Linked DNA regions of Homo sapiens: region 2 is reported to be linked to region 1. The links are microRNA targets in miRTarBase. Many come from high-throughput screens and were not tested one by one. Region 1 holds a microRNA gene; the other region holds the end of a gene's coding sequence.
What was found. Region 1 holds the annotated microRNA hsa-miR-4738-5p (ACCAGCGCGUUUUCAGUUUCAU, at 2,477-2,498, shown strand). A microRNA usually pairs through its seed, bases 2 to 8, with sites in the 3' UTR of a target mRNA and lowers its output. Matches are read on the target gene's strand: a 7mer-m8 pairs with bases 2 to 8, a 7mer-A1 pairs with bases 2 to 7 and ends in A, and an 8mer does both.

Region 2: miRTarBase lists MRGPRF as a target of hsa-miR-4738-5p. The part of its 3' UTR that is shown has no 7-base or 8-base seed match.

The regions. Positions count from the first base shown.
Region 1 is chr17:75,782,685-75,787,064 of GRCh38, reverse strand. It overlaps MIR4738 (microRNA 4738), which reads left to right and starts at 2,458; the gene lies at 2,458-2,544. UNK (unk zinc finger) reads right to left here and starts at 2,259. Exons shown (of 16, transcript NM_001080419.3): 1 at 2,081-2,259. The coding sequence starts at 2,184. RefSeq lists enhancers at 1,009-1,586, 1,598-1,997, 1,587-2,165, 3,728-3,907 and a silencer at 2,058-2,197.
Region 2 is chr11:69,001,413-69,005,792 of GRCh38, reverse strand. MRGPRF (MAS related GPR family member F) reads left to right here. Exons shown (of 3, transcript NM_145015.5): 3 at 1-1,395. The coding sequence ends at 515. Among named protein-coding and RNA genes, the nearest start is that of MRGPRF-AS1, 8.8 kb to the left of the region's middle. RefSeq lists enhancers at 1,421-1,922, 2,883-3,383.

The DNA.
Region 1 (4,380 bases):
CTGATTTTTGGAAATACAAATATAAAAACACACATACATATGAACAGACAAAGAGATAAGAACACCTACAACCTCCCATCAAGCTTGGCTATTTCACCTACTCCTGTTGATTTCCTAAGACACCTCAAGAGCCAGGTCCCATTACTCTATACTTACCCACAAGGAATGGAAAGGCAGGCTTTTTTTTTGTTTTTGTTTCTGTTTTTTGAGACGGAGTTTTGCTCTTGTCGCTCAGGCTGGAGTGCAGTGGCACGATCTCGGCTCACTGCCACCTCCGCCTCCCGGGTTCAAGCGATTCTCCTGCCTCAGCCTCCTGAGTAGCTGGGATTACAGGCGCCCGCCAGCACACCCAGCTAATTTTTTGTATTTTTAGTAGAGACGGGGTTTTGCCATATTGGGCAGGCTGGTCTCTTCACTCCTGACCTCATGCGATCCGCCTCGGCCTCCCAAAATGCTGTGATTACAGGCGTGAGAGCTACCACGCCCGGCAGGAAAGACAGGTTTTAAACAAATGAGCATCAAGAGGACAAAGACTCAGATACTGACATTTAATCAGCTGTTCACTTGTTTCACCTGTCAATTCCAAAATAAGAAAGCCTTTCTATTACAGATTCCATAGTATGCTCAATGACAACACAACACAGAAACACAAGTTGCTGAAGCCAAGACTCTCGTGACTCAAAATGTGTTTATTTTGCTAAAAACAGTGATCTGAGCAACCAGAGATTATAAAGAAGTTCCAATTACGTGAAGTTTCCAGATTCGAAAATCAAGACTACACCATTCAACTCATCAGTAGTCTTTGAGCTAAGAACATCTCACCAAAATCAATGGAAAGACTGCGAAAGATCTCCAGTAAGAAAGGACCAGGAAAGCAATGTCCATATCAGAAAAGGAATGGTTAACGTGAGTCAGACTGTAGTCAAGAAGCTTAAATGATTTCAGCCAACAACAAAGAATCCCACAAAGAAACCATACACTTCCTATAACCAATGTTCCCCAACCCCAGAACAGTTTCCCAAGGTCTTCTATAACAAGAGTTCCTCCTGACTGGTTTGAGTTCTTTCTACTCCAACAGATGATTCTGTTCTTCGTTCACTGAACAACTTAAGAGCTGTTCAACCCCCCAGGTTCCAAAACCTCTCGCAGCTGGGGATCCTTTTAAACATGCACATCACTCAGGAGCCCATGGGGATGAGAGGCATTCACAGAGCATCAGGGAAAATGGAAAGCAACATTTTGCTTAACAGGAGAAACCGCCCCTTATTCATCTTTCTCCCACATCACCTAACTCTAGGGAATGCTTAACGTGGCTTGAAGGAAATGAAGACAGCGACCTAAAAGCACACAGATGCAAGACTTCCAGGAAGAGGTTTTCCCATCCTGCTGGACTCCTGTAGTGTCAGTATTTGGGGCTCCCTCTAATGCTACATTTCTGCTGAGCCTGCAGACATACTTGGAACCCATCACCTTCGGGCTCCCAGACTCAGGCTCCGCACAGCCCGCGAGGGAAACGGTCATGGGCACGCACGGACACGTTTCCATCTTTGCATGTTTATCTACGTCGACTGTGAATTCAAGCAAGTGTGGCCCTCGTGGACAACCTACGAGCCTTAGGGACACAAAAGGCTTCCTGCGCAAACTGCACGGAATCTCCTGACAGGACTTCACGTTAATCATCATTCATAGGTGGGTTCTGGGGCTGGACCCCACGGAACTCCTCTTGGTTGTGTCTTGGACTTCTCACTGCCCCAAAGGAGCCTACTACTGTGGTTTTATGGTCTGAGGAACAGTTAGGCCTCGAAGGCCTGGCCTAGGGAGAGTGCACTCTGCATCCCGAGCTCCCGCCTTCCCCACTCGGCGGCCGGGACCGAGTTTCCCGCCCCACAGCCCGACCAGAGGTTGGTGGCAGTTGGAGGCAGTTGGGACCGGCCCCAGCAGGTTGGAACCGGTCTGGGCCGGGCCGGAGGAGGAAGGGGGGGAGGAAGAGGCCGCCTCGCGCTCTCCCTGCGCGCGTGACTCACGCTGGCCGCTGACGTCAGGCGTGCGCGCGCGGCGGGGGGGGGGGGGCTCTACGTACGTGTAGTGCTGCGGTTTCTCGGGCTGTGCCTGCAGCACCTGAGCGGTAGCGGCCGGGGGCGCCGAGGAAGCTGCGGAGCCGCCGGGCCCGGGGCCCTTCGACATGGTCTTGTCTTCCTGCCTCTTCGCCGCTCCCCTTTTATTATTCAGTCTGCGCGGTCCGCGCCGAGGACCCAGTGCGCCTGCGCCGCGCCACGAGAACGTGAAGACCCCCCACACGGCAGCAGGGGTTGCTGGGAGTTGTGGTTCTATGTCCGGCTGGAATTTTACCGTCGGCAGAGGGTTGCTGGCAAAGCACAGGACCACAATACCCAGGGATCCTTGCTGCTAGTGTCCCGGATGCTGAGGGCCTGCGACGGCTTCTGGGAATTGCAGTCCGGTCGCATTTCTCCTTCTTACCAGCGCGTTTTCAGTTTCATAGGGAAGCCTTTCCATGAAACTGGAGCGCCTGGAGGAGAAGGGGCCCAGAGCTAGGGAGGCCCTAGCGATTTCTGCGAAAGAGTTCCAAGTATAATTTCACTGCCAACAGTGTCATAACTACTTTGCCTTTATACTTAGTACAGCTAGGTTCGGTTCTAATGCCAGCTCAGAGCAGTGCTCCAAGCAGGGCTTAAGAATCTGTGTTGTCGGTTCTTAGTTCTGGGCCCTGTGCTGCAGGCACCTGCAATCCGCCAGCAACCCCTTCATCCCTGCGGCGGGTCTAACCTAAGAGGCATTGAGAAAGCTTTGCTAAGGAGGAGGTACACCGCACGCTACAGTTCCCGCGCCTTTGCCGAGGCGCTTCATTTACCTTTGCCAAACTCGACACCTGGAACTCCACGACTTGTGTGCTTTCTCAGCCTGACACCTGGCCTGACCAACTTGTTTCCAGTACATTAAGGGCCAAGGACGAATTTAATCTCCGCCTAGAATAGTCTCTGAGGTACACTGACAAGTTGCCAGTGTTGAGAAGCATCACAGGGTCCAGAGGAAAGGCCTGGGTTTGAGTAGGGCGTGCCCGTATTTATCCACTCTAGTTTTCTTGTCTGGACGTCAGCCTTTTTACTTGGGACATTATCTTTCCCCTCTCTGCTTCCCACCAGTCAAGCAAAGTTCTTCACTTTATAAAATAAGCCAGATGCCCCAGACCTAGGCATTTGTTTCTGTGAGTTTTAGAATGTTCTCCGTAGATATTTTAACCGTTGTCATTTAATTTGGTTTTTCATATTGAATCTATTTCAAATCCACTGGTTTTGATTTATATTTTCTTAGATGGGATTATATTAACAAATGATTATCTCATTAAAGAAACACATTCCAAATAACCTTAGGGATGAAGGGTGGTGGGGCTAATGGAAAATCGTTAATGTTTGAGTGACACATACTTATTTTATTTAGCTCCAAGTTCCCTCACATCAGAAGCCACATCACAGAGTTGAGAAACTGGTTTTTCCTAAACAGGCTAAATCGTTTAGCCACTAGGGGCGTTTGAAAATGAAAAATTACAAAAGGACAAATAAAAGTTGTAGTATATTGCTTTAATCCTATGATTAAACGCAAGTTACTTGGTTTATGTTAGCCTCACAATACTCAAGTGTGATCTGACTGAAGAAATAGAGTTCACAGCACTGGATTTTAAATAATAGATGTATATCATGAGCTTCAGAATAAGTGTGTACTGGTGGAGTTGGGAGATGATATCATCCAAACTGCTTAATTTACAAAAGAGGAAACCGAAACCCAGAGAAGCTAAGTAACTTGCACAAAGTTACTCAGCAAGTTGGTAACAAGAGGAACTAGGACAGTAGCCTACAAGACTACATCACATTCACTGTTGGGTTTTGTTTGTTTTGTTTTCTTCTGCTTTTTTTCATTGTATAAACATTTTTTATTCTTCCTCATTTCCTGTGTTGCTTTTCCTCCGTTGTACCAATCTGGAAAAAGTGAAACATACCTGCATGACTACGAAGTAAGAGAGACAGCCTTTTTTTTTTTTTTTTTTTTTTTTTTTTGAGGCAGAGTCTTGCTCTGTTGCCCAGGCTGGAGTGCAGTGGTGTGATTTCGGCTCACTGCAACCTCTGCCTCCCAGGTTCAAGCAATTCTCCTGCCTCAGCCTCCTGAGTAGCTGGGATTACAGGTGTGTGCCACCACGCCCACCTGATTTTTGTAGTTTTAGTAGAGACGTGGTTTCACCATGTTGGTCAGGCTGGTCTCGAACTCCTGACCTCACGATCCACCCTCCTCAGCCTCCCAAGAGCTGGGATTACAGGCGTGAGCCACTGCGCCCGGACTCCTGTTTCCACGAATCATACTTAAATGGAT
Region 2 (4,380 bases), not on the chromosome of region 1:
TGGTCACCTGCCTGCACAACTACTTCTGCGTGTTCCTGGGCCGCGGGGCCCCCGGCGCGGCCTGCAGGCACATGGACATCTTCCTGGGCATCCTCCTGTTCCTGCTCTGCTGCCCGCTCATGGTGCTGCCCTGCCTGGCCCTCATCCTGCACGTGGAGTGCCGGGCCCGACGGCGCCAGCGCTCTGCCAAGCTCAACCACGTCATCCTGGCCATGGTCTCCGTCTTCCTGGTGTCCTCCATCTACTTAGGGATCGACTGGTTCCTCTTCTGGGTCTTCCAGATCCCGGCCCCCTTCCCCGAGTACGTCACTGACCTGTGCATCTGCATCAACAGCAGCGCCAAGCCCATCGTCTACTTCCTGGCCGGGAGGGACAAGTCGCAGCGGCTGTGGGAGCCGCTCAGGGTGGTCTTCCAGCGGGCCCTGCGGGACGGCGCTGAGCTGGGGGAGGCCGGGGGCAGCACGCCCAACACAGTCACCATGGAGATGCAGTGTCCCCCGGGGAACGCCTCCTGAGACTCCAGCGCCTGGAGGAGGCAGGGGCAGGAAGCGGCCTCCAAGACCCTTCGCCTTGGGACAGGAATGGGCACCTGCTTCTGAGTCCATACAGGAGAAGAAAGATCTGTTTCCTCTCCTCGGGCCTCCTTCTCCCTGGGCTGGGGACTCCAGGGGTGGCTGGGAGACTGGGCAGCCACCAGCAAACAGACCCTGTGGCCCCTGCCCGGCTCCCCCACCCATTCTGCTCCCCTAGAGACCTCTTGTACAGAAGTTGCCCCCAGGTGGTGGGGCCCCTCCTTGCCCTAGGCTGGTTGGTAAAAGAGAGGAGGTCAACACCCAGCCTAGCCACCTCTGCCTCTTGGGTCAGCCCTCCTTGACTGTGTCCCAGCCAGCACCAGGCCAGCAGCCTCATCCCTGCCATTCAGGGCTGTTCCAGAGATTCGATCCTCTTAAGGCATTATCAGTGAGCAAATGTGAAGGAAATGGTGTCTGGAAGAAAGTTCTGGTTCACATGCCTTGTAGCTAAGTCTTTCTGCAAACAACCTCCCTTCCCCCCGTCGAGTCATTTGGTGACTTTGATGGGGGGATTTCTGGTTATGTCAAGGCTCTGGAGACAGGAAGGGCCTTTGGCCGCCTTGGGTAGTTGACCTGCCTTTTCTGACTCCGGGACGAGCCAGTCCTAGGCTGCCTCCGGGAGCACTTGAGGTATCCCGCAGGCCATGAGGACCCACTGGGCAGCTCCTGGACAGCCTCTTGGCTCCAGCCCCCACCCGAAAGTGGACACTGGCTCCGCCCTGGCCACCTGGGGACTGGCACTGTGGTGCACAGTGGCCCAATGTGGCCAACGGAAGTTTTATAAAAGACAAAATGTATATCAATAAACATTTTATAACTTGCAGCCAGGAAGGCTTCATGCCCACAGTCCTACCCTGGGTCTCTGTTTCCGACAGTGAGGACGCCCAAGGGCACAGAGTCCCGGGACGGGTGGCACCCCCCGCCAGCTCTCCCGCACACTTTGCTCTTTGCCTCTGCTCTCAGGCCTCCTCCTGGGGCTGGGTCTGCACACACCCGTGTTCCCGCTCCTGTGGCTTGTCCACTCCCTGCCAGAGGGAGCCGTGGTCAGCCAGGCTGTCCTGTGCCGGCGTATCCCAGTGCCCCTTCTCAGCTCGGAGGCCCCCACGGCCTCTGGGAGCCACAGCTCTCACCTCCTCCATGCCAGGCTCTGGGCCGGCCACCATGGTCCTGCCTGTGTCCACCGGAGGCTCCGTGGAGTGGATTGCTGCCTCTCCTCCTGTTGCCCCCGTTCAGGATGCCCCTCTCTGTCTTGAGATCCCTGAGCCAGCCTCCCAGTGCCCAGACATCTCTCTACAACCCAGCGATAGGCTGGGAGCCCTCCCAAGATGACAGCCCAGCCAGCGCCACGCTAGAAGGGTTCCTGCCTGGCCCTTTTGCCTCTGGTCAGCCCCCAGAAGGGCCCCATCCTGGGTTCCTGGTGTGCAACCTAGGACCCTGGCTCCTTTGAGACAAGCCTTAAGGCAAGCCTGCTCACCCCATGGTCCCATGGAGAGAGATCATGGCAGAGGTGTTGGTGCCCCCAGTCAGGAAACGTGGCTGACAGAGTTGGGCCCCTCGTCTGCAGAGCAGAGCCAGGAGCAGGCAGGCGGGCAGCACTCCGAGCTCCAGGTGGGAATGAGTAGAGGCGTGGGCAGTACCACCAGGTTCACGCACCCAGCCACCTGGAACGTGGCCTTCTAACTGCAGGCCCTGGAGCCTGCTCAGCCTGCCCCTGGTGAAGTGGTCCAGCCCTCAGTGGGCTGACCCCCCAGTTCTGTGTCCCTGATGATCCACTGCCCGGCCAACCTGACCTCCACTGCCCTCCTGCCCCTGCTCCTCAGCCCACTGCTCCTCCATGCTCCCCTTTCTAACAATCCTGGTCAGGTCCTCTCAGCAAGACCACCGCTCTAGGAAAAGAGGGGATCTCATGTGGCCCAGATGTCGTAGTTCCAGGACCTCTAGGTGATGAAGGTTGCATGTCCCCACCCGCTCCCTCCCAGTGCCCAGAACGAGCTCTGCCATCCTCCAAGTCCCACCCTCCCCAGCGCTGGTCAGAGGATCCCAGAAGAGCAGAGCTGGAGACCACCATGTCCAACAGGTCATTTCCAGCGACTCAGAGAAGCCAGGTGGGGCCTTGAGCAGACACACCAGGAGGCAGGGCTAGGACCTCGTCCAGTGGCGAAAGCTCCCACCAGCACGGGCATCCTAGCTACACAAGTGGGCAGAAGCACGTCCCTCTCCTGAAGGCAGCTGGGTGGGGGGTCCATCTGGGGTCCTGGCTCCTCCTCAGGGCCCAGAGCATCCCAGTTCCTGGGAATTCATCTCTTCCTTAGGAGTCCCCACCCCAGGACTCCAGCCCTGAGTCCTCGTGGGGAGCTGCTGACCTAGAAGGAAGGGGCCTCCCTGCCTGGATGCTGCTGCAACAGCTCAGAGCCAGGGCCGGTGAGGGGGTGGACAGCCTCACGCAGTAGCAGGGCCTGGAGGTCAGGAATAGGCTGGGTCCGACTCTAGGAGGAGGCATCTGCCCTGATGGATCCTAAGGCGGGAGGGGCAGAGGTGAACCCCAGGAACTAGGCCTCCCCCAACCCGTGGCCCTTCTCAGGTGCAGGTGTTTGCAGTCTTGCTAGGGAACAAGCTTTCTTCCCCTCCATCCCCCCGCAAAGCCCCAGGATTCCCACACCTCCCTGGACCACCTCGCTCTCTGTGCTAATGGAGGGAGACTGCACAGATGATGAGATGAGCGGGAACTGCCCGCTCTCCTCCACTTTCCTCCTCCTTCCTTTGGTATTTAATTATTAAAGTGGGCTTGGGAGGAGCTGAGGGCTGCGGGGGAGATTTCCATCCCACAGCTCTGGGAAAAGGATCCACAGCAGGTCACAGAATGGAGAGTGGGGCATGGGACCAGAGCATCTGGGCTGCCCTGGTTGTTACAAAGCCGACTTAGTAACAACCATGTGGTATGTGGGAAGGGTGGGGTGAAGGGGCAGGGGTGGGGCATCAGGCAGGGCAGAACTCTCCACTTTTCCGTGCTGTCTGCCACCCACTATTTCTATAAAAATAAGCTGCTCTTTTAGATTATGCAAGGGATAAGCAAGGCCAAATTTGGAAAGTCAAGAGCAAGCCTCAGGGAGGCAGAGGGCTGCCACCTATAAGCCATGGGACCTCAGTCTTGCTGTGCCTCACTTTCCTTGGATAAGTCAGCTACAGCACCGACCTCCAGGAGTTGGTGCAGTGGCCTGGGGTGGCAGCCGGTGTGCCTGATTGCCCTGGTCGGGCGTTCAGGGCAGGGAGCAGAATGGCCACTGCAGAAGGGATGTGCCTGTGAGTGGTTTGTCCCCAGCACCAATCTGCTGTTTGCGGACATACTATGGGCAGTGGGTGCTGGCCAAGAGCTGCACGTAGGTTTTCTGTTGACTGTCCATGCAGGGCTACATGGCCCATACTGTCAGCCCCAGCTGTGGAAGTGGGGGCTCATGAATGGAGTTTCTCATCCAAGGTCAGTCGCGCTGGTGGACGGCCCTGGCTGGAGGCCTACATCACCATCCAGGGACTCCCCACAGTGGCCCTCCTGTTGCCCTGGAGGCTCAGGTCTCTGACCTTCCATCTCCCATCTGCAAAGCACTGGACACTGGGGTTCCGGGCAGATGCACGGAGTGGCCTGGACATGCCCATCACAGCCCTAGGATAACCCAGACGGGCCATCGAGACCTATCCACACTCTGTGGAGACCAATGGAGGAAACAGCTCAGTTTCAGGCTGTGGGCGTCTGAATCAAAGCGGGGACTGGGAACAAGGTGCTCAGCGGACACTCAGCAAACGGCCTGAACGC